7 linked regions of the Homo sapiens genome follow. The protein of the gene in region 1 purifies or fractionates together with the protein of each later gene. This does not show direct contact. Each region holds a gene or a part of one and is shown in the gene's direction. Other genes may lie near its edges.

Region 1 (3,500 bases):
AACAAAGGACTGACAGATTGCCCCGACTATTCTGTGGAGTGGACTTTGTGTGTGTATGGAGGGGGTTGAAGGAGGAAGGGCTAGGTGATGAGATCAGAGAGATGAATCCAGTTAGGAGGCCAGAGAGATGGTGGTTTGGATCAGTGTGGCTGTGAAGATAGAGAAAAGGGCATAGACTTGGCAGAGGGGACGAGATTACAGCCGAATGGATATAAAGAGTGAATGGGTGAAGCGAGCAGGACTGAAAGATACTACTGTTTTCACAGGAGCAGCTGAGTGGATGGCGGAGCCCTTGACTGAGATGGGGAATGGTCAGGGATACCTGGGTTGGGAGTGGGGGCTGGTATGGATGAAGAGTTAGGTTTTGGCTGTGCTAAGTCTTGAGATGCTTTTCAGGCATCCATGTGGCGAGGCCAAGGGAGCAGTTGGATATAAAAACATGACTCTGGAGTGCAGCTGGAATTGCATACTGTTCTGTGTTTATTACTTTACTAAATATTTGTTGGCTGAGAGAATGTTGTGTACTTTGTCCCTGGTGGCTTGTTGGGTAATGTGTGGTCATGGGGAGCAATGGTGGCATATTAATGTGTGAGAAGGACCTGGTCAAAACCGGCTTGTTGTCCCTGTTAGCAAAATCCTCACTTGTGTAGTGACACTAGTGACTACACGATGTAAATAAGCACATTGTAAAGAAGCAATGTAAATAAGCCTAACAGGCTGCGGGTGTATAAGGTTAAAAGTGGTGAACTGATTAAAAAGAGTAATCGTTCTTGTCACATCTTCCACAATTTTGTCATCTTCCCTGTATTATTTCTTCTCAGCTGCCAGCAGGAGGCAGGACAGTGTACTGCCCAGGTGTGAAAAGACCAACAGCTGTACCTTGTCTTTTCTTCCTGTTACTCTGATTCTTGCCTATTTTGGACACATGTAACTTTCAGACCCACCTGGAGGAACTCATTTGCAAATGAAGCAGTCAAGGAAAAACTGCATTTGAGAGGCTGCTGTGCACGGACAGTGTGCGGTGTGCTTTAGCAGAGTTCTGCTAGAAAGTTCCTTTTTTCCTTAGAAGCTGAATCTTTCACAACTTACAAAAATGGGGGAGTGATTGATTTAGAATTGTGTGCTCATGTTGGAAGTGACAAGTTATTTTTCCTCCTCAGCTCTAGATTCTTGTGTGTAGCTTGTTGGTTTAGAACGCTGAGGTTTATAATGTTATTTCTTTAGTTTGGATAGGTTGAAACAGGTGTGTGTTAAGACTCATTATACTGTTGTCTACGATTTCTCCCTATTCTGAGTCCCTCAGATTTATGTTCATCAATCAAATAGTTCACAATAATGAAATGTCTTCATATTAATCGTTGATTAACTACACAAGAGGTGGCAATTCCTGCTGCCTTTGTGTTTTCTAAGGTTATGTCTCCCAGGGCCGCCTGCATGGCTATATTTCTTCATTTCTTTGGACAAAATAACATCACCCTGTTACAACTTCCCTGAGGTCATGTCACTGAACTCTGACAGTCATCCTGAGATAAGTGTTACCCCCATTTTGTAGACAGCTTCAGTTTCAGTTTCTATTTCGTTGAGTCAAGGATAGTTCTAAGCTGTTTTGTTTAACTCCTTTGCATAATATCTACGAAAAAAATAAGTATGTAGCAAAACATTTTTGAAGGTGATTTCTTCCAAATCAATCATAGCAAATTGTTTTTCCTTTTCTATTCGAGTAGAAAGGCTGTTAGATTTCAAGTAGTTGAATCATGGTCTCAAGGCCTGGCTCAGTCCCCTGCTAGTTGTGTACCCTTAGGCAAGTTATTTATCCTGTCTGAGCCTCAATTTCTTTAGGATCTGAGGATAATATCATAGCATATTAACTTTGTTCTAAGACTCCATTGATTATACGATGCACCATCAATTTAATGCAACTTTTTTGGGGGACAGGGGAGTAGAAATTACATTCAACGAGTGTATTGATTGTAAGACACTCTAATTTCAGAAACACAGGAACGAGTACCTTCAAATTGAGGAAATATGTTATCTACTTCTTGCCTCTAGTATGTAGAACACATAGAAAAATGTTTGTAATACCCAATAAGTAGCCTGATAAATAAGCTATTCAAAAATAGTTGCCTCCTACGTGGTTGGTATGGGAAAAAAAATAGTTGCCAATTTTTATTTATCAGCCAATACTTTATGCCTTATTTCCTTCTCTCCTGGACAGTAAGATTCTAATTTTAATTAGTAATTGCAATTGAAATGTAACTGCTGGATGATTATTCTGCTTTGTCTTCTTAAAAGCATCCTGACTTGAAATGGGAAGATGTGAACTCTTGATTTCTCTAATTTATTTCCAGGAATAAGAAATGGTACCAACCAATTCTGTGACTCAGCCTTGTGCTTATATTTGCCAAGCTTTTGCTTATATATCACATTTAACCTGATGACAGCAACCTTAGGAGACTGATTTAAGGGTGTATTGGGGAAGAGAGACGTTTCAACATAGCAGGGAGGAGAATGAACTTGGACTATAGGCTGAGCATAGAAGTTCTATATCCATCAAGGTTTGGCTATAGAACTCTAGTGGCAAGTGTTCTGGTACGTAATTTAAGATCTTTCCTTAGTAGTCCTGTCCATGTTGAACAGTTCTGCTGTGTTCTGTAATAATGTTGCCCATTAGATTGTGGCTTTTTAAAAAACTTTTTATTGAGTTACAATATACAAGCAGGAAAGTGTATGTATAATAAGTTTATAGCTTGAGTTTTTAAAAATTCAAAACATGTATACAGCCAGCATTCAGATCAAGAAACAGAATCTCTAAAAGCTTTCTCCTGCTTCCTTCTGGTCACTGTCCTCTCTAAGGGTGACTATGCTCTTGATTTTTAATACCATGTATTGTTGTTGCCAGTTTTTATGCTTTTTATAGGTGGAATTATGAAGTATGTTCTCTTTTGTGTCTACCTGCTTTTATCAACATTATGAGAGTCACCCATATTGTTGCATGTGGTTATAGGTTGCTCATTATGGGACCATACCACAATTTATTTACTCATTCAGCTATTAATGGACCTTTTGGGCAGTTTCCAGTTTGGCTATTATGAATGGTGCTGCTATGAACATTCTAATACATGTCTTGGTGAACATATGTACTTCTTGGTGAGGAGAAATAGTAATTTCTGTTGCCTATATATCTAGGAGTAGATTTGATGGCTTCTAATTGCTCTTTTTAAAGATTAAGTGCCTTTCATTTGTTTAAATGAATGGAAGGGGCCTTTTCTTGCCTACCCGTTGTGTCTCCCCACCCAGCAAAAAAGGCCACAGTTTACTAAACTAGCATTTGTCACACAGGTGCTCATCATCTTTCTTGCTTGGTGACTGATATATACTTAAGTCCGAATCAAGTGATCCTTATTATTTCAGACAAATCCTCACTTTTCATACTTTAAAAAAAAAAACACTAGATTCTGGATGGCAAATTATTTCAGTAGCAGATTGTTTAGAAGATTTTA
Region 2 (2,682 bases), on another chromosome or scaffold:
CAGAGTAAAACAGGAATGAGCTAGGAAGTGGGGATGGGGATGTGCGTGGGTGTAATTTGAGAGGTGGCCTGGGAAAGCCCCTTTGAGAAGGTGCATTTTGAGTGAAGGCCTGAAGGAGGTGAAGGAGCTAGCTGTGTAGATACCTGAGGAAGAACTTTCTAGGCAGAGGGAACAGGCAATGCAAATCCCCTGAGATCATGTCTGGTGAGTTTGCGGAGGGCAACGCTAGGAAATGAGATCACTGAGGTAATTCGGGCCAGACCATGTGGGCAAGCCAATATCTTATTCACTGTTGGTATTGTTGTATTAACAACCACCATCTTGTCGGGTTTTCTTACCTCCATCCTGAATTTCTTTGCCTAGGGGCATGAGGAATGGAGAGGAGTGTGTTTTGGAGAAGTATATGAGAGAGAGGAGGTTAAAGCTAGGAAAAGACACAGGATGATAATCAGGTTTCAGAGAAATGGGGACTGAGAGGCACCCTGGAGTGGAGAGCAGGAATTAGCTTAGTGGTTCAGTGTGTTGGCTTTAAAATGGTCGGCTTTCCTCTTGTGGTGTGAAGTGCCAGTCATCTGTATGTTCTTTCTTTTCAGATTTAGAACAAAGTAGGAATCTAGATCTCAGTCTTACTCTCCAGAGAGCTTCCTTTCTTGTAGTCCTTCCTAACATTCAGCTGCTAAATTTTTAACTACCTAATGCAAGCAGACCTCCTAGGAGATTTGAGGCTAGATATGTAGCCTGGAAACCTCCCAGGACTCAGGAAGGGCAGCCAAGAGATCCCTTTACAGCAGTGCTCAGACTGCCTGTCCCGGCTGGTGTTTTGCAGAGAGGAGAACTTAATCCCGTATTCTCCAGATGTACAGATACACGCAGAGCGATTCATCAACTATAACCAGACAGTTTCTCGAATGCGAGGTATCTACACAGCTCCCTCGGGTCTGGAGTCCACTTGTTTGGTGAGTAGAGCCCACAGCTGCCCTATTTCACCCTTGGTGGATCATTGGTTGTTTCTTTCCTAATTCTTATTCCATCTGCCTTCCAGGTTGTGGCCTATGGTTTGGACATTTACCAAACTCGAGTCTACCCATCCAAGCAGTTTGACGTTCTGAAGGATGACTATGACTACGTGTTAATCAGCAGCGTCCTCTTTGGCCTGGTTTTTGCCACCATGATCACTAAGAGACTGGCACAGGTGAAGCTCCTGAATCGGGCCTGGCGATAAAGAACAAAGACTGTGCCTAAAAGTGGAGAGCCAGGGGAGTGTGGGTCAGATAAGCAGCTACAGCTGCAGTTTGGTGGATTGGTGGAGTATGTGTGTGTGTCAGTGCTCAGCTAAGAACTGTAGGGAAGATGGATGACCTTCACGCAGAACTCCTTTTGGGATATACATGATGCAGAAAGGATCCTACATGGAGAGAGACAGAACTCTCTCAGCTGACACTCTCAGAGATTCCTGATGGGCTTTCTCTTGAAGTCCAAAGGCGTCTGCATTGTTTCCTTTCTTTGCCCATCCATGAATGTTCTGTTTTGTTTTTTTTAATAAGAATTCCGGCTGATTTTTGTGAGGCCTGTTTAAATTGACTTTACTTTGCCTTTTGTGTTTCTCAATTTTATCTAGAAATCTTTCTGACTTTTTCCATCTCTTGCTTCAAAGTAAGAGGGGAACTCTCCTTGCCGACTCCACCTTATAGGTACATTTGGTGTTTTGCACTGGGAAGAAATAGGATCCATCCTTAGCTGAGGCTTGAGGACTGATCCAGCCTCTCATGGCTTCCCTCCAAAGTAACTTAGGGTTGAGGGATCTATATGTGATGTCAAAACTTACTTTAAACCTCTAGTTTCGTGCTGTCATTTATTAGGCTGGGCCACCAAATCTTTGTTTCAATTTATCAGAAGCCAAGTGCATACTAGCGTCTTGTTTGTTGCCCATTGCCTATACTTTTCACCTGAGATGTGTGAGTTGGGGCCTTTTAAAAACTACTGAATTGTCTGAGCCTTGAAGACATTTCCAGGGAGAAGAGATAATCTCTCATTTCACCCACAGGCTGGTCTAATCATAACCTAGTTAAAGATGTCCTTGTTTAAGAACCCCATTATTTATTTTTAGTTTTTAATATAAATTAACATGTGGGTCATTATATTTCTCCTTAAATGAGGAAATTTTAAATTTTATTGATCTAACCTTTGAAGCTTTAAAAAAGGAGAAAGAGGGTAGGGGTGGGAAACTGGCATACTGTGTGTATAGCACTGCCGATTGGCTAGGCCACTGTGTCTCTGCTACAAATTAAAGAAATCCTAAAAGTTTTCCTTGGTCATAGAGTTGGGGAATGACAGAATTTTTCTTTGTTGTGAAATGTATGTACAGAGTAGACCATCTCTAGCCCTGTGGTGAAAGAGGTACACTCGAATGTTTGCATAAAGCAAGTGACAAATGACACTGTTTAAGTCCTCTTTTGTGTCTTAGAAGATCATTTTGAGGCTATTTTCACATTAGAGGGGATAAAAGCAGTGAAGACATGGAGTAAGTGTATTTTATTTTAGTAAGGAAAGGTCAGTTTAATCATATATGGGTTGGTTAGGTTATCTAAAAATTTGTCATCTTTCTATGGTCATATGCTGATGGTAGATTATGGCAGAGAAGGAAGAGGAAATGACAACCATTTTATTAATTGTCAGTTTGAT
Region 3 (3,066 bases), on another chromosome or scaffold:
ACATACATATGTACAGGTATTGTTATTTGTAATTTGACCCTTGTATTTTTTAGTTTAAAATGTTAGTACTGCAAAATGTTATGTCCTCAAAAACACATTGTACCATGATTATGCCGCTTTCAATATTGTAAAGTGAGGTTTTTGCCGCATTATTATTTTTTGGATTTCAATAGCATAGCTTCAAGTTATTCGTAAGAATTTTTTATAAATAATACATTTTTATACTTTTTTATAATTACCATATCATCATAGTGAAGTATATAATATATATGATATAAGCTCAATATAGTATATTAATTCCGTTAAACACAAAGACATATCAGTTTGTAGCTTTGGTGGATAAACAAATTAATTTAGCAATTCATGGCTATGAAAAATGTATATTTTATTTAAAAATTTTAAAGAAAGCTAAATGATCAAATTATTTAATGATGAATTATATGATAGACACTTTATATAAGAAAAACTTCAACAGCAACAAATTAAAATTTTTTCATCATTTTCTAGGTGGACTTAAATCATATTTACGGTGAAACTCTGGCTAGACAGCGTAAACTGCGCCTTTTCAAGGATGGAAAAATGAAATATCAGGTATGCTTCCTTTGACTATTAAGACTTAGTTATTACCGCTTATACCCATATTTTAAAATCCCTAAAAATGTGTTCCTTAACTTTTTAACTGATGTTTATTTATTTATTTATTTTTTTAGATAATTGATGGAGAGATGTATCCTCCCACAGTCAAAGATACTCAGGCAGAGATGATCTACCCTCCTCAAGTCCCTGAGCATCTACGGTTTGCTGTGGGGCAGGAGGTCTTTGGTCTGGTGCCTGGTCTGATGATGTATGCCACAATCTGGCTGCGGGAACACAACAGAGTATGCGATGTGCTTAAACAGGAGCATCCTGAATGGGGTGATGAGCAGTTGTTCCAGACAAGCAGGCTAATACTGATAGGTAAACAAGAAAATGATTTATATAAAACCCTCTTCCCCAGGGAAAATTAGTGTGCTATCTTTGTTATGTTTTGAGTAAATGACAAGATGTGGTAAATGAAAACTCACACATTCTATATACATTAAATATGTAAGCATGACTGATAAAATAGCTATCTTTTGATACTGACAAGGAAGAAAACAGAAATGAAGGAATAGCAAATTTTAAAAATTGCATTCCAGTTGCTTGAAAGCTTGTGATCAGATGCAATAAATGTTTTTATTATTTATTTTGTGCAAATAGGAGAGACTATTAAGATTGTGATTGAAGATTATGTGCAACACTTGAGTGGCTATCACTTCAAACTGAAATTTGACCCAGAACTACTTTTCAACAAACAATTCCAGTACCAAAATCGTATTGCTGCTGAATTTAACACCCTCTATCACTGGCATCCCCTTCTGCCTGACACCTTTCAAATTCATGACCAGAAATACAACTATCAACAGTTTATCTACAACAACTCTATATTGCTGGAACATGGAATTACCCAGTTTGTTGAATCATTCACCAGGCAAATTGCTGGCAGGGTAAGCATTATTATTGAAAACCAAAACAAAAGACTAGTCAGTAACTTTAGAATTTCTGCCACGGAAATTATTTTTCTTAAACTTACTAAAAGAGTAGTTAGTTATATTGCTAGTAAAATTATTTTATTGATATAAGAAGCCTAACTTTGTTTGAAAAGTCTAAACTTTTAGTCTAGTCTACAGTTGTCAGACAAATAGCAAATTGTACCCCTACCTTAAAAATATTTTCAAAAAGTATCTATAATCTTATAGGAATAAATATTTTAGGCTTGAATACTAGTGTTATTTTTGAAATGTAAAAAGGCAAATTAGTTCTAGGCTGGTGTCCCATTGAATTTTAAGCAGAGCTCCTGTTGAAATGTAGGTAAGCATCTTTCCAGCAAATAAAAATTGTCTCCGCTGGGAGTTTCAGTTTTACCTGATTTGTACCTAAGGCAAGCTGAATACAAACAGTAAATATGCCTAAAATTCTTGTTTTACAACTAATTTTACTTTCCACAGGTTGCTGGTGGTAGGAATGTTCCACCCGCAGTACAGAAAGTATCACAGGCTTCCATTGACCAGAGCAGGCAGATGAAATACCAGTCTTTTAATGAGTACCGCAAACGCTTTATGCTGAAGCCCTATGAATCATTTGAAGAACTTACAGGTAAGAAACAGTTTCTAAACTTCTTCGTTTTTTGTTTGTTTGTTTGTTTTTGTTGTTTTTGGTTTTCTTTTCGAGATGGAGCCGCCCTCTGTCACCCAGGCTGGAGTGCAGTGGCGCCATCTCGGCTCACTGCAACCTCCGCCTCCTGGGTTCAAGCAATTCTCCTGCCTCAACTTCCTGAGTAGCTGGGACTACAGGCTCACGTCGCACGCATGGATAATTTTTTGTATTTTCAGTATAGACGGGGTTTCACCGTGTTAGCCAGGCTGGTCTCAAACTCCTGACCTAGTGATCCGCCGGCTTCGGCCTCCCGAAGTGCTGGGATTACAGGCGTGAGCCACCGCGCCTGGCCCCTAAACTTCTTAAAAGAATCAGGGGTCAAATGGAAACAGAGAAGTTGGCAGCAAATTGAGCAAAAGAATCAAACTGTTTTTTATTTTGTGAAGTTTGACATTGGTTGTATCTCTGTCTTCATCGCCTTCACAGGAGAAAAGGAAATGTCTGCAGAGTTGGAAGCACTCTATGGTGACATCGATGCTGTGGAGCTGTATCCTGCCCTTCTGGTAGAAAAGCCTCGGCCAGATGCCATCTTTGGTGAAACCATGGTAGAAGTTGGAGCACCATTCTCCTTGAAAGGACTTATGGGTAATGTTATATGTTCTCCTGCCTACTGGAAGCCAAGCACTTTTGGTGGAGAAGTGGGTTTTCAAATCATCAACACTGCCTCAATTCAGTCTCTCATCTGCAATAACGTGAAGGGCTGTCCCTTTACTTCATTCAGTGTTCCAGATCCAGAGCTCATTAAAACAGTCACCATCAATGCAAGTTCTTCCCGCTCCGGACTAGATGATATCAATCCCACAGTACTACTAAAAGAACGTTCGACTGAAC
Region 4 (2,328 bases), on another chromosome or scaffold:
AAAAAAACTATGTATGACTTGATGGAGAGCTTTACATAAAGTCCAAGGAGCCATTTGAAAGCTTGCATCAATTCGAGAAGCAGACTGGACTGTGGCTAACTAAGGCAGTTTACTAATAGTGTGAAGAGAGGGAGTGTAATATTGATATGGCAAAAGAGAATTGTTGCTTTGGTGTTAACCAGGTGTCCCTTCTCTGCAGTGATGTTTATCCATGCATCGTTGAGACTTCGGAACCTCAAGAACAAACTGGAGAATAAAATGGAAGGAATAGGTTTGAAGAGGACACCGATGGGCATTGTCCTGGATGCCCTAGAACAGCAGGAAGAAGGCATCAACAGACTCACTGACTATATCAGCAAAGTGAAGGAATAAACATAACTTACCTGAGCTAGGGTTGCAGCAGAAATTGAGTTGCAGCTTGCCCTTGTCCAGACCTATGTTCTGCTTGCGTTTTTGAAACAGGAGGTGCACGTACCACCCAATTATCTATGGCAGCATGCATGTATAGGCCGAACTATTATCAGCTCTGATGTTTCAGAGAGAAGACCTCAGAAACCGAAAGAAAACCACCACCCTCCTATTGTGTCTGAAGTTTCACGTGTGTTTATGAAATCTAATGGGAAATGGATCACACGATTTCTTTAAGGGAATTAAAAAAAATAAAAGAATTACGGCTTTTACAGCAACAATACGATTATCTTATAGGAAAAAAAAAATCATTGTAAAGTATCAAGACAATACGAGTAAATGAAAAGGCTGTTAAAGTAGATGACATCATGTGTTAGCCTGTTCCTAATCCCCTAGAATTGTAATGTGTGGGATATAAATTAGTTTTTATTATTCTCTTAAAAATCAAAGATGATCTCTATCACTTTGCCACCTGTTTGATGTGCAGTGGAAACTGGTTAAGCCAGTTGTTCATACTTCCTTTACAAATATAAAGATAGCTGTTTAGGATATTTTGTTACATTTTTGTAAATTTTTGAAATGCTAGTAATGTGTTTTCACCAGCAAGTATTTGTTGCAAACTTAATGTCATTTTCCTTAAGATGGTTACAGCTATGTAACCTGTATTATTCTGGACGGACTTATTAAAATACAAACAGACAAAAAATAAAACAAAACTTGAGTTCTATTTACCTTGCACATTTTTTGTTGTTACAGTGAAAAAAATGGTCCAAGAAAATGTTTGCCATTTTTGCATTGTTTCGTTTTTAACTGGAACATTTAGAAAGAAGGAAATGAATGTGCATTTTATTAATTCCTTAGGGGCACAAGGAGGACAATAATAGCTGATCTTTTGAAATTTGAAAAACGTCTTTAGATGACCAAGCAAAAAGACTTTAAAAAATGGTAATGAAAATGGAATGCAGCTACTGCAGCTAATAAAAAATTTTAGATAGCAATTGTTACAACCATATGCCTTTATAGCTAGACATTAGAATTATGATAGCATGAGTTTATACATTCTATTATTTTTCCTCCCTTTCTCATGTTTTTATAAATAGGTAATAAAAAATGTTTTGCCTGCCAATTGAATGATTTCGTAGCTGAAGTAGAAACATTTAGGTTTCTGTAGCATTAAATTGTGAAGACAACTGGAGTGGTACTTACTGAAGAAACTCTCTGTATGTCCTAGAATAAGAAGCAATGATGTGCTGCTTCTGATTTTTCTTGCATTTTAAATTCTCAGCCAACCTACAGCCATGATCTTTAGCACAGTGATATCACCATGACTTCACAGACATGGTCTAGAATCTGTACCCTTACCCACATATGAAGAATAAAATTGATTAAAGGTTTTTTTGGTGAGACTTTATTTAATGCACATCTGTCTTAAATACCTGAGAAACTTGGCGACGACCCTATAAACAGTGAAGCAAACACTTCAGCTGTTTCAAATACTGTTTAGTAAAGCTTGAATACTTTATTAACTTGCAGCCAGAATAAAACAATTCCAGTGGGATCCTATTTTTAAACCTGGCACGAGTTTTATATACATGTTAGCCCAGTTTTATATACATGTTAGCCCATTCCATTTTCTACAAGGTGAATTCTGCCGATAAAATCCAATAAATTTGGAGAAACTAATAAAAAAAAAGATACCTGTAATTACTAATGGCCAGTAGTCAATTCTGGAAGGGTAATAACAGAAAAATGTAACATATAAATGTTGTAAATTATGATTACATTTAAAAACAAGCTAAAATCTGCAACTAAGATCTTTAGGGTTGGGTGGTAGAAAAAGCATAATGTGAACTGCTTCACCTCTTTTGGCAAAACCTGTGTATTGAGGCCATAAGCTATGAAATTGGATCATCTTTTCTT
Region 5 (2,872 bases), on another chromosome or scaffold:
GGGTGATGAAGGTAACCACCTACCGAGTGCACGTGGCCCAGCAGCAGGACGTGCACCTGACTGTGACGGAGTCTCGGCAGCATGAGCTCTCGCCAGACTCGAACTTGCCCGTGCAGCTCCTCACCATCCGTGTGGCCAGCACCAACCCTGCTGTGCAGGCCTTTGACATCTGGTAAGAGTGTGGTGCCTGTGGGGCTGCGGAGGGCACATGGCAGGCCAGAGCCAGGCTCTGGTGCCACGACCCCTGGGAGGTGCTGGGTGTAGCTGGTGTGGACTCCAACACTCCTGGGCTTGTGTGACACCAGGCAAGGTGTCCACAAGACACCAGTCACTGAGCCCTCCCGCATAGCCCTCCCTCGGGTCCCCCTGCACTCTTGGCCTCCCCTTCCACTCCCTGGAGCCACCTCCCCCAGATTCTTGGGGAGCACTCAGGACAGTGCAGCCCTCAGGCTGGACAGCTGCCTTGCTCCTAGGTCCGTCCCGTGCCCAGGCTGGGCTGTCTGGCACTGGGTCCGTGGGCTCTGGCCTTAGGGCCATCTCTCCTGGTTGGTCCTGGTGCGACAGCTGCCCTGTCACTCCTTGGGGTGTAGCCTCCATCTTCCGCTCCCTTTGCCCTGCAGAGGGGCCCAGCAGCTCTCCTCCCTGCAGGCTGAACTCCACTGAGTACGGGGAGCTCTGCGAGAAGCTCCGGGCACCCATCCGCAGGGCAGCCCATGTGGTCATCCACCAGAGCCTGGGCGACCTGTTCCTGGAGACATTTGCCTCCCTGGTAGAGGTCAACCCGGCCTACTCAGTGCCCAGCAGCCAGGTGGGGGGCCTGGGCCAGGGCCGGGTGGATGGGTGGGTGCCCACGGGTGTCTGCCTGGGCTCCTGGTGACGCTCCACCTGCCCGCAGGAGCTGGAGGCCTGCATAGGCTGCATGCAGACACGTGCCAGCGTGAAGCTGGTGAAGACCTGCCAGGAGGCAGCCACAGGCGAGTGCCAGCAGTGTTACTGCCGCCCCATGTGGTGCCTCACCTGCATGGGCAAGTGGTTCGCCAGCCGCCAGGACCCCCTGCGCCCTGACACCTGGCTGGCCAGCCGCGTGCCCTGCCCCACCTGCCGCGCACGCTTCTGCATCCTGGATGTGTGCACCGTGCGCTGAGTGGGCTGGGGCCTTGAGGTGACTCTGTGTCTCCCCCCAAAGCCACAGGGCAGGGAAGGGGGTGGCTGGGCCTCCTGGCTGGCAAAGGGCTCTACTTAAAGCACATGATGTAGAGCAACTCGCCTCTGCCCTGGGTCTGCAGAAGGCTGAGGACTTTTGGTTAAAAGCAATCCTCATGAAAACACCCCACCCTGCTTGGCAGCCAGGGTACAAGTCCTGGGCACCTCCTCTTTGCCTCCCTCCTGCCCCTTTCCTGCTGGTGGGGGCAGATCCTGCACACACAGACACAGCGTCTGCCCCCGAGCCATTCCCTGGAGACCCTGGGTCTACCCCAGGTGGTCGTCATCTGGGCCATTTGCCTTACTTCTCTGGAGCATACCCACCCTCAGTTACGTGCCAGACCTGGACCGCATTCTCCTGCCCTGTCCTGGAGCTGGCCCCTGGCTGCCTGGAGGACCCTGGGTAGGTCCTGAGGGTGGGATGGAGAAGAGGGCACTGCTGTGGTGTGGGAGCAGTCCTGGGGCTTCCTGGTGGCTGTGACCAGTTGAGGGGCTGTTCCTGGGTGGGGTGGCAATGGGAGGACAGGTCAGAGCGCCCTCATTTGTGGGGCTGCCCCTCCGGGTTTCTCATCCTGTCCTTGGTGCCTTTTTCTGCCCAACAAGTCCAGGGAAGGCCGAGGTCTCAGACTCCTGGGTAGGGGTGGGGGTTTGAGTTGAGGACCAAAGTGCCATAGCGACATCCAGAACACAAGCCCACCAGGGGTCCAGCCCAGGCTACCCACTCCCCTAGGGTCTCCCAGGCTCAGAAGGGGATGCACGCCCCCTGTGGTCAAGCCTCTGGTGGGCGTCTTGCCCAGTTCCTGATGGTTCAAGGGGAGGGGGGATGTTGGCCAGGCCCCAGGGCACAGCCCTGACACAGGTGTGGCTACTGGAGGGGCCTTCATACCTGCGGCCCCAAAGCCCCTGGGCTTGGCTGTTTGAGGCAGAGGTGATGGACTCCGGGGGCCTGACACTTGGGATTTGGGAGGCTTCCTAGAGCGCTCAGCAGGTGAAGGCAGCAGGGGCCATGGCCGGGAGCCAGGCCTAGCTTTGAACTGAGTTTCAAGGGCTGCCAAAGAGGGGCAGTGGGTTGGGGTTGTTTTTACTACAAAATAAGTTACTTAGTTTTATAAAGACAAACCGATTGTAGCCAAATGACACCATATTTAATAAAATTTAGTCTGAAGTGATGTACTGTGTTTTGTGTTGCCCGATATTAAAACCAAACTTTTGTCATAGTTGGAGAATGGCCTGTGGGTATTGGAGAAGCCACCTTAGAGGTGGAATTGCGTGCGTGGCGTGCTTTGTTCAGAATAAGGAGGAAAAACCCATTGGTTGGGAGGCGGGTACAGTAGGAACCTTCCCCTCTGATTTCTGGTTAGGGACTCTGGGGTCTTGAGAACCCCTGACCCAGGGCCCTCTGCAGGAGCAGGGTGGGAGGGGCAGAGACACGTCCTGGGGGAAGTCACTGTGTGGTCGCCACTGCGGCTGCTTCCAGATGCAGGAACTGATGTGGGGACACATGGGTAGCCAAGGAGTGAGCAGCCTTTCCGGTTCACTTATGTTTGCAGCTGCGTCCTGTGAGGACACCAGGCTGTCTCTACTGACCTCACTGTGGGTCAGGGTGGCCCAGGAATTGCCAGCCGAGCACCTAGGGCAGCCAAGACAGCAGCCTGGGGTTCCCCACAGC
Region 6 (3,500 bases), on another chromosome or scaffold:
TTTTTCACATTTTTTTAAAATTTCAGTAGCTTTTGAGATACAAGCAGTCGGTTTTTGGCCACATGGCTGAATTGTATAGTAGTGAAGTCTGAGATTTTAGTGCACCTGTCACCTGAGTAGTGCACATTGTACCCAATATGTAGTTTTTTATCCGTCACCACCACCCCCGCCACTGTCTGCCTTCTGAGTCTCCAGTGTCCATTATATTACTCTGTGCCTTTGCATACCCATAGCTTAGCTCCCACTTATACATGAGAACGTATGGTATTTGGCTTTTCATTCCTCAGTTACTTCATGTAGAATAATGACCTTCAGCTCCATCCAAGTCACTTCAAAATACATGATTTCATTCATTTTTATGACTGAGTAGTATTCCATGATGTATATATACCACATTTTATATTCATAATTATTCTTACAGGCTTTTGTGAGCTAGCCTAGGAAGTTAATTGCCATTGTGTGTCTTCTAAGAGTTTCCAGAATACCGAACTTAGAGCCAGCCCTTTTGAATAAAATAATTACCAGGACTGTTTCGAGCTGAATTAAGATATTGAAATATCGATGTTAACATTGAAGCTTTTCTTTCTGGTTTATCCTATTGACTCTTGTTTCTCCTTTAGAGTGTCTCTATTACCTATTTCTATATGTTATCAGTATTTGAGGAACTTTGTAGAATCGCACTTTTTTTTTCCTGAATATCATCCACTTTGTTCAGTGACGTGCACCCCAGGGAACACATTTGTTGTGAATGTTGTTTTCCTTATGACCTTTAGTGTGATAATGACTGCTGAGAAGACAGAAGACAATTGTGAAATCAGTGTACTAATGTCATGCTGTCTCTTTCTCCCTGCCCAAAAGTGATGTTAGTATGTGTTGTCTCTCACTCCTTGCGGTCCTGCCAGCTCTAGTATGTTTTCTGCTGCTGTTGAGCTGGGTGGCACAGCTGCATGTTGCAACATAAACTGCTTTTTTGCAAGGTTGCATCTCACAGAGAATGGCCTAACTGGTCCATTAGGAAGTTGTGTCTCATATGAGCTTTTTCAACGGTGTAAAGAGATATAAAATGTCTTAGTGAAGATATTTTAGTGACATAGTTTAGCTATCGAAAGCATTTCAGAGAGGATTTCATTTCAGAATCCTTTCTTTTATTTACGTTTTTAAATTCCTAAAATAATAATGTAGATATTTTGTCTGTGATTAGTTACTGTGTATTTGAAAAGCAACATTTATAAGTTTTAATAAATTTTATATCTAAAACCTAAAATAATGAGTACCAACTTTTAAAACTTAATTAAGCATCTTTTCACTAAGACGTTTTAGCTGGGATGAAAGGCTCTGTCTTATTCTCTTGAGTTTGCATGTTTTGCATTTGCATGAATTTCATTTAGCAACATTCATTGTGTTTTCCCAAAATATTAGAGATGAGTAAATGTATATGCATATTATGGTAGTCTGTTTAAAATGCAGTAGAAATGAAAACATTTCTGTACTTTAGGTGAATGGAATTGCCATCTGATTTTTATAATCTCTACCAAGATGGTTAATATTTGTTATTACCCATGGAGCTTTTATACTGTAAGAGTGATAGACTTTTCAACATTAATAATAATAATATGAAAACCAATTCAGTGCTCCTTGGTGAATGGCACTTCCAAAGAGCCAAGTGTATTAGAGCAATTGTGTACTGCAAAGACTGCTGTTAGGTGTGGAATTGGCCACTACGAGACTGGTGCCAGTGCCAGCCAATGGTGATAATATGCCCAGCGGCAGCCTCGCCTCATGACCCTCCACTCACCTCCACACTTACACACATCCTCAGCAGAGAGTCTGAGGATAGATGAAATTCCAAGACATGAGCATTTCACGAATTTTAAAGCACTCATATAGGAAATACAGGAAGGTCATGCTCTCATGAAGGTCCCTGCAGCACTGATTTGTTTTTTCAAGGCAAACCTGGTATTTTGTGTTGGTATTTTTTTTTTCAGTAAAGATATAGTTGGTATTGTTCATGTGTCTTCTGACCTAACTATTTTGGATTTTATTTCTTTAATTGTATTTGCTTTTAGCATCAGTGAATGAAAACCATGAAATATACATGAAGGATTCTATGTCTGCTGCAGAGGTTGGTACTGGCCAGTACGCCACAACAAAAGGCATCTCTCAGACCAACTTGATCACCACTGTGACTCCGGAGAAGAAGGCTGAGGAGGAGCGGGACGAGGAAGAGGACAAACGGAGGAAGGGGGAAGAAGTCACGCCCATCTCGGCCATCCGGCACGAGGGAAAGGTATAGCTCCCAGACTGCCTGCAAGAGCTTGCTCCAGCTTTTAAGAATGACTAAATGATGCTGAGGCTGTAAACCAGGAATGTGCTCAGATTTAGGATAAATCATATGTCAGCACTGGTCACATTCATATGTCAATTTTTAAATTATGATTGCTGTTTCAACATTTTTTCTCTGAAAGGTTCATTCATAGCTCTTTGAAAATTTTTATTTTAATAACTTGTGTGCTATGTAAGACTTTCAATAGCTGTCCTGTATGTGTATCTTAAAAATACTTTTGGTGGCGTATTACACTTTTCTGTTTGGGCTCACATTTCAGAACTGTCACTAAAGCTGTTTTCTTTGTTTCTGGCCCCATTCTCCTACCCAAGTACAGCATATTTTTCTAGATATACAATTATCATATTGCCATTCTTCTGACTGTAAGTACATGGAGTGACCACAGCCTACATATTTATACTTACGCCTAATCAGCAGAGTAGTGACTGGCCATGTTTTGAAAAGGGATCTTAAGGCAGAAAGTTGCAACAGGAGATAAAAAGGGAATTTGGCAGCAGCTTCTTCTTTCAGTGTTGAATTCATTAAACTTTGTAACATTGTTTCACCCCAAATTAAATATCTTTTTTAACACCATTTTTAAACACTATGTTTTTTTCTGGTGATCCAGCACTACAAAGCAACTTTTCAGAAAAATAATTTAAAAGTCAAAAAACCCTTCAGGAGGCTTATACCTAATAATAAGGGAAAAACAGAGTGGCTCCTGGCCTGTACAGAGCATAGAGTAAGAGGAAATAGCAGAATGAAAATGCTCATAATAACCCATGGGTTATCCTAAAATTTGAGTAAATTTGATTCACGAGTGATCTTTTGTACATGGGCTCTTCAAATAGAGATGGAGAATCACTACCCCGAATTCTATGGAAAGTGTTCCTTTTGATGAGAATTTAGCAGTGACATCTTAACATAGACAAATAATTTTTGTAGTTATGCTAAAATATTACAAATGGCCCAATCCATCATCTTTTATTTTTTGGGATAAGATTATTTATTTGGCAAACACAAAATTAAGCAGAGAGTAGGAAATAATGGCAGGGATATTTCGATAACTTTTGCTGTTAAAATGTGCTTTGTTCTAAATTTTGTTTTTACACTCTTCCTGTCTGTTCAGTCAAGGAAGGCTTTAAAGGGGACAGAAAAGAATATAATCCACCCAAAA
Region 7 (3,500 bases), on another chromosome or scaffold:
CAGATTTTTACCCTTTTTCAGAGCTGCAGCACCAGTTTTATTGCAGCAGTTATGGTTTCATTAGATGAGATCTAGGTTAGAATACCAGCTCTGTCACATACTAGTTTATGTTGCTTTGGTCATGTTGACAGATCTTTGAACCTTCGTTTCCCAATTTGCACAATGGAATCACAAGTTCTTTCTGAAGATGACTGTGAGACAAATGAAAGAATGCACGTGAAAGTACCTGTATTTGTTAGAGGGCAGGCTATACTGCTGTAACAAAGATACACCAGAATTCAGAGGCTTAAATATGATTGAAGTTTATTTTACCAACTGACAGTCCAAACCCACACATGAGTAACCCAGACTAAGGGTTCATGTGATCATTCAGGGATTAAGGGTTCTCCCTTCTTATTACCCTACTATTCCACAAGGTATTGTCCCAGCCTCTTTGGTTGAAGCTGGGTTACCATTACATCTTTGTTCTAGCCTGTGACAAAGGGACAAAAAGGAGGTGGAGGACAACAAGCAATTTTCCTTTACACAAGTGACACAGTGTTGCACATATCACTCCTGGGCATGGGTCACTGGAAGGAGTTTTGTCACATCGCCTAGTCTAGCTGCAGGGGAGGCTGGGAAATGTAGTCTGAGTAGCCACACGCCCAGATGAAACTCCAGGGATGTTCTCTTACCAAAAGGAAAAAAGGGAAAATGAACACTGGGGGACACTTGTAGTCACATTAGAAGTTGCACAGTGAAAGATTGGCAAAGAAGGCTGGGCGCAATGGCTCACGCCTGTAATCCCAGCACTTTGGGAGGCCGAGACGCATGGATCACCTGAGGTCAGCAGTTCAAGACCAGCCTGGCCAACATGGCGAAACCCCATCTCTACTAAAAATACAAAAAATTAGCCGGGCGTGGTGGTGCATGCCTATAGTTCCAGCTACTCAGGAGGCTGAGGTAGGATAATTACTTGAACCCGGGAGGCAGAGGTTGCAGTGAGCCGAGGTCATGTCATTGCACTTCAGCCTGGGTGACAAGAGTGAAACTTCATCTCAAAAAAAAAAAATATTGGCGAAGAAATACTTGAATTCCTCTTTTCCAGTCTACTGTCCTTCTTGTGTGTTTTTCTCTTTGTTATGTTTGATTCTGAGCTATTGTCTTAGTCTGTTTTCTGCTGCTATAACGGAATACCACAGACTGGGTATTTGCAAAGAAGAGAAGTTTATTTGGCTCAAAGTTCTGGAGCCTGAGAGGTCCAAGAGCATGCTTCCAGCATCTGGTGAGGATCATCCATAGCGGAAGGATGGAAGGCAGGAGAGCGGGACAGGAAGAAGGAGGTCAAACCCTGTGATAAGAATATGAATCCATTCATGAGGGCAGAGCCCTCGTGATCTAATCACCTCAGTGGCAATTAAATCTCAGCATGAGCTTTGGAGGAGACATTCAAACCATAGCAGCTATTGAGGCTACCCAAGATGTGAAACAAAATTGCAGCTACTAAAGCAGTGCTGTCCAGCAGAAATACAGTAGGAGTGCAGATGTCATTTTAAGTTAATTTGAATAGTACATGAGATTTATTGTATTTTATTTATCTATCTTTTTTAGGACAGGTCTCACTCTATCACCCAGGCTGGAGTGCAGTGGAACAATCATAGCTCACTGCAGCTTTGAACTCCTGGGCTCAAGTAATCTTCCTGACTGAGCCTACTCCCCTTCACCACCCCCACTCTCCAGGAATACAGTCCATCTAATTTTTTTATTTTTATTTTTGTAGAGAAACAGTCTGTCTATGTTGCCCAGGCTGGTCTTGAACTCCTGGCCTCAAGCGATCCTCCTGCCTCGGTCTCCCAAGGTGCTGGGATTATGAGCATGAATCACTGCACTTGACTGAGATTAATTTTAATATTATAGTTTATTTAATTTGGTATATCTTAAATATTATTCTTTCAACATATCATCAATTTAAAAGTTTTAAGATATTTTACATTCCTTTTTTTGGTGTGAAACCCTTGAAAGCCAGTATGTATTTTACACTCATGGCAAGTCTCAGTTTGGACTAACCACATTTCAAGTGCTCAGTAGCCACATGTAGCAAGTGGCTATGTTATTGGAAAGTACAATCCTAGAGCATGATATTCTCTAGAAATTTTCCAGAGCTGCATCCTGACTTTTTGTTTTGTTTTATTTTATTTTATTTTTTTGAGATAGCGTCTCGCTGTGTCTCCCAGGCTGGAGTGCAGTGGCACGATCTCGGCTCACTGTAACCTCTGCCTCCTGGGTTCAAGCGATTCTCCTCCCTCAGCCTCCTGAGTAGCTGGGACTACAGGTGCGCGCTGCCACAACCAGCTAATTTTTGTATTTTTAGTAGAGATGGGGTTTCACCATGTTGGCCAGAATGGTCTTGATCTCTTGCTGACTTTTATTTTTAAAAATTGCCCATGAACCACCTTTAGCTTAAGAAATAAAATATCATCGATGCAGCCCCTCCCATCTGTTTCTCCCTTATTCTATCCCTCTTCCTCTCTTCCAGAAGTAACCACTCTCCTGAATTTATTTATTCATTCCCATGCGTTTCTTTGTGCATATAGCCATTCTGTTTGTTTCTAAGCTTTATTGAAAGAGCATCATATGGTGGATCTTCTTCTGCAAGTTGTTTTTCTCTCATGGAGATTTATCCAGGCATAGCTCCAGTTTATTAATTTTCATAACTGTTTAATATTCCATCCTATGAATAGCTCCCAGTCTTTGCTTCAAGTCTTCTTCTGATGGATGTTCAGGTTGATTCCAGGTTTTTGCTACTTCAGACAATGCTGCCTGTGAACATTCTTATGCATGTCTCAGGGGCAGGTGGCTGCAATTTTTTGTAGCACATATTCCTAGGACTGGAGTTGCCGAGTCATAGCCTATGAGCACCTCCAAATTTATTAGATATTGCCAAGTTGCTCCCCACAGTGGTTTGTTCTCCCACAAAGTACAGGTAAGAGTTCCTGGAACTCCACATCTCACCCATGCTTGGGGCTGCAGCCTTAGCACTTTTGCCCCTTTGACGGGCATCCTCTTACCTTGGCCCTCTCAGATGACTGCAAACAGAAAGGTGGAGCAGCTACAACAAGAATACACGGAAATGAAGGCTCTCTTGGACGCCTCAGAGACCACCTCGACAAGGAAGATAAAGGAAGAGGAGAAGAGGGTCAACAGCAAGTTTGACACCATTTATCAGATTCTCCTCAAGAAGAAGAGTGAGATCCAGACCTTGAAGGAGGAGATTGAACAGAGCCTGACCAAGAGGGATGAGTTCGAGTTTCTGGAGGTAGGTCGCCACAAGGCATTGTTGAATGTTTTTTTTTTTTTTTTGCCTGATGTCATGCTGTTGATGATAGGGCCCTCAAGGAGCGGGAGACTGGAAGAGGTCACTGGAAGCATCCCTGAGACACACGCTGTATTAGTTTTCTGAGCTGGGCAACAACTTACCACAAATGTAGGGGCTTCAAAAAACACATATTTATTCTCTCAGA

The links.
Region 2: the proteins of DERL1 (region 1) and EMC1 purify together in Homo sapiens (affinity purification with mass spectrometry; one large-scale study listed by BioGRID and IntAct). This does not show direct contact.
Region 3: the proteins of DERL1 (region 1) and PTGS2 purify together in Homo sapiens (affinity purification with western blotting; 2 studies listed by BioGRID). This does not show direct contact.
Region 4: the proteins of DERL1 (region 1) and ARL6IP5 purify together in Homo sapiens (affinity purification with mass spectrometry; one large-scale study listed by BioGRID and IntAct). This does not show direct contact.
Region 5: the proteins of DERL1 (region 1) and TMEM129 purify together in Homo sapiens (affinity purification with western blotting; 3 studies listed by BioGRID). This does not show direct contact.
Region 6: the proteins of DERL1 (region 1) and EPB41L3 purify together in Homo sapiens (affinity purification with mass spectrometry, with the first as the bait; one study listed by BioGRID). This does not show direct contact.
Region 7: the proteins of DERL1 (region 1) and TRIM25 purify together in Homo sapiens (affinity purification with western blotting; 2 studies listed by BioGRID, with this or other methods). This does not show direct contact.

The regions. Positions count from the first base shown.
Region 1 is NC_000008.11:123,035,803-123,039,302, reverse strand, and holds part of DERL1 (derlin-1), read left to right. Parts: intron 1-3,500. UniProt on the Homo sapiens protein: Functional component of endoplasmic reticulum-associated degradation (ERAD) for misfolded lumenal proteins. Forms homotetramers which encircle a large channel traversing the endoplasmic reticulum (ER) membrane.
Region 2 is NC_000001.11:19,217,843-19,220,524, reverse strand, and holds part of EMC1 (ER membrane protein complex subunit 1 isoform 1 precursor), read left to right. Parts: intron 1-826; coding exon 827-956; intron 957-1,042; coding exon 1,043-1,222; 3' UTR 1,223-2,682. UniProt on the Homo sapiens protein: Part of the endoplasmic reticulum membrane protein complex (EMC) that enables the energy-independent insertion into endoplasmic reticulum membranes of newly synthesized membrane proteins.
Region 3 is NC_000001.11:186,674,358-186,677,423, reverse strand, and holds part of PTGS2 (prostaglandin G/H synthase 2 precursor), read left to right. Parts: intron 1-507; coding exon 508-591; intron 592-710; coding exon 711-957; intron 958-1,239; coding exon 1,240-1,526; intron 1,527-2,027; coding exon 2,028-2,175; intron 2,176-2,661; coding exon 2,662-3,066. UniProt on the Homo sapiens protein: Dual cyclooxygenase and peroxidase in the biosynthesis pathway of prostanoids, a class of C20 oxylipins mainly derived from arachidonate ((5Z,8Z,11Z,14Z)-eicosatetraenoate, AA, C20:4(n-6)), with a particular role in the inflammatory response.
Region 4 is NC_000003.12:69,104,265-69,106,592, forward strand, and holds the end of ARL6IP5 (PRA1 family protein 3), read left to right. Parts: intron 1-199; coding exon 200-372; 3' UTR 373-1,828; downstream 1,829-2,328. UniProt on the Homo sapiens protein: Regulates intracellular concentrations of taurine and glutamate. Negatively modulates SLC1A1/EAAC1 glutamate transport activity by decreasing its affinity for glutamate in a PKC activity-dependent manner.
Region 5 is NC_000004.12:1,715,452-1,718,323, reverse strand, and holds the end of TMEM129 (E3 ubiquitin-protein ligase TM129), read left to right. Parts: coding exon 1-172; intron 173-648; coding exon 649-808; intron 809-895; coding exon 896-1,144; 3' UTR 1,145-2,372; downstream 2,373-2,872.
Region 6 is NC_000018.10:5,418,498-5,421,997, reverse strand, and holds part of EPB41L3 (band 4.1-like protein 3), read left to right. Parts: intron 1-2,066; coding exon of another isoform or gene 2,067-2,120; coding exon 2,121-2,287; intron 2,288-3,500. UniProt on the Homo sapiens protein: Tumor suppressor that inhibits cell proliferation and promotes apoptosis. Modulates the activity of protein arginine N-methyltransferases, including PRMT3 and PRMT5.
Region 7 is NC_000017.11:56,904,050-56,907,549, reverse strand, and holds part of TRIM25 (E3 ubiquitin/ISG15 ligase TRIM25), read left to right. Parts: intron 1-3,061; coding exon 3,062-3,295; intron 3,296-3,500.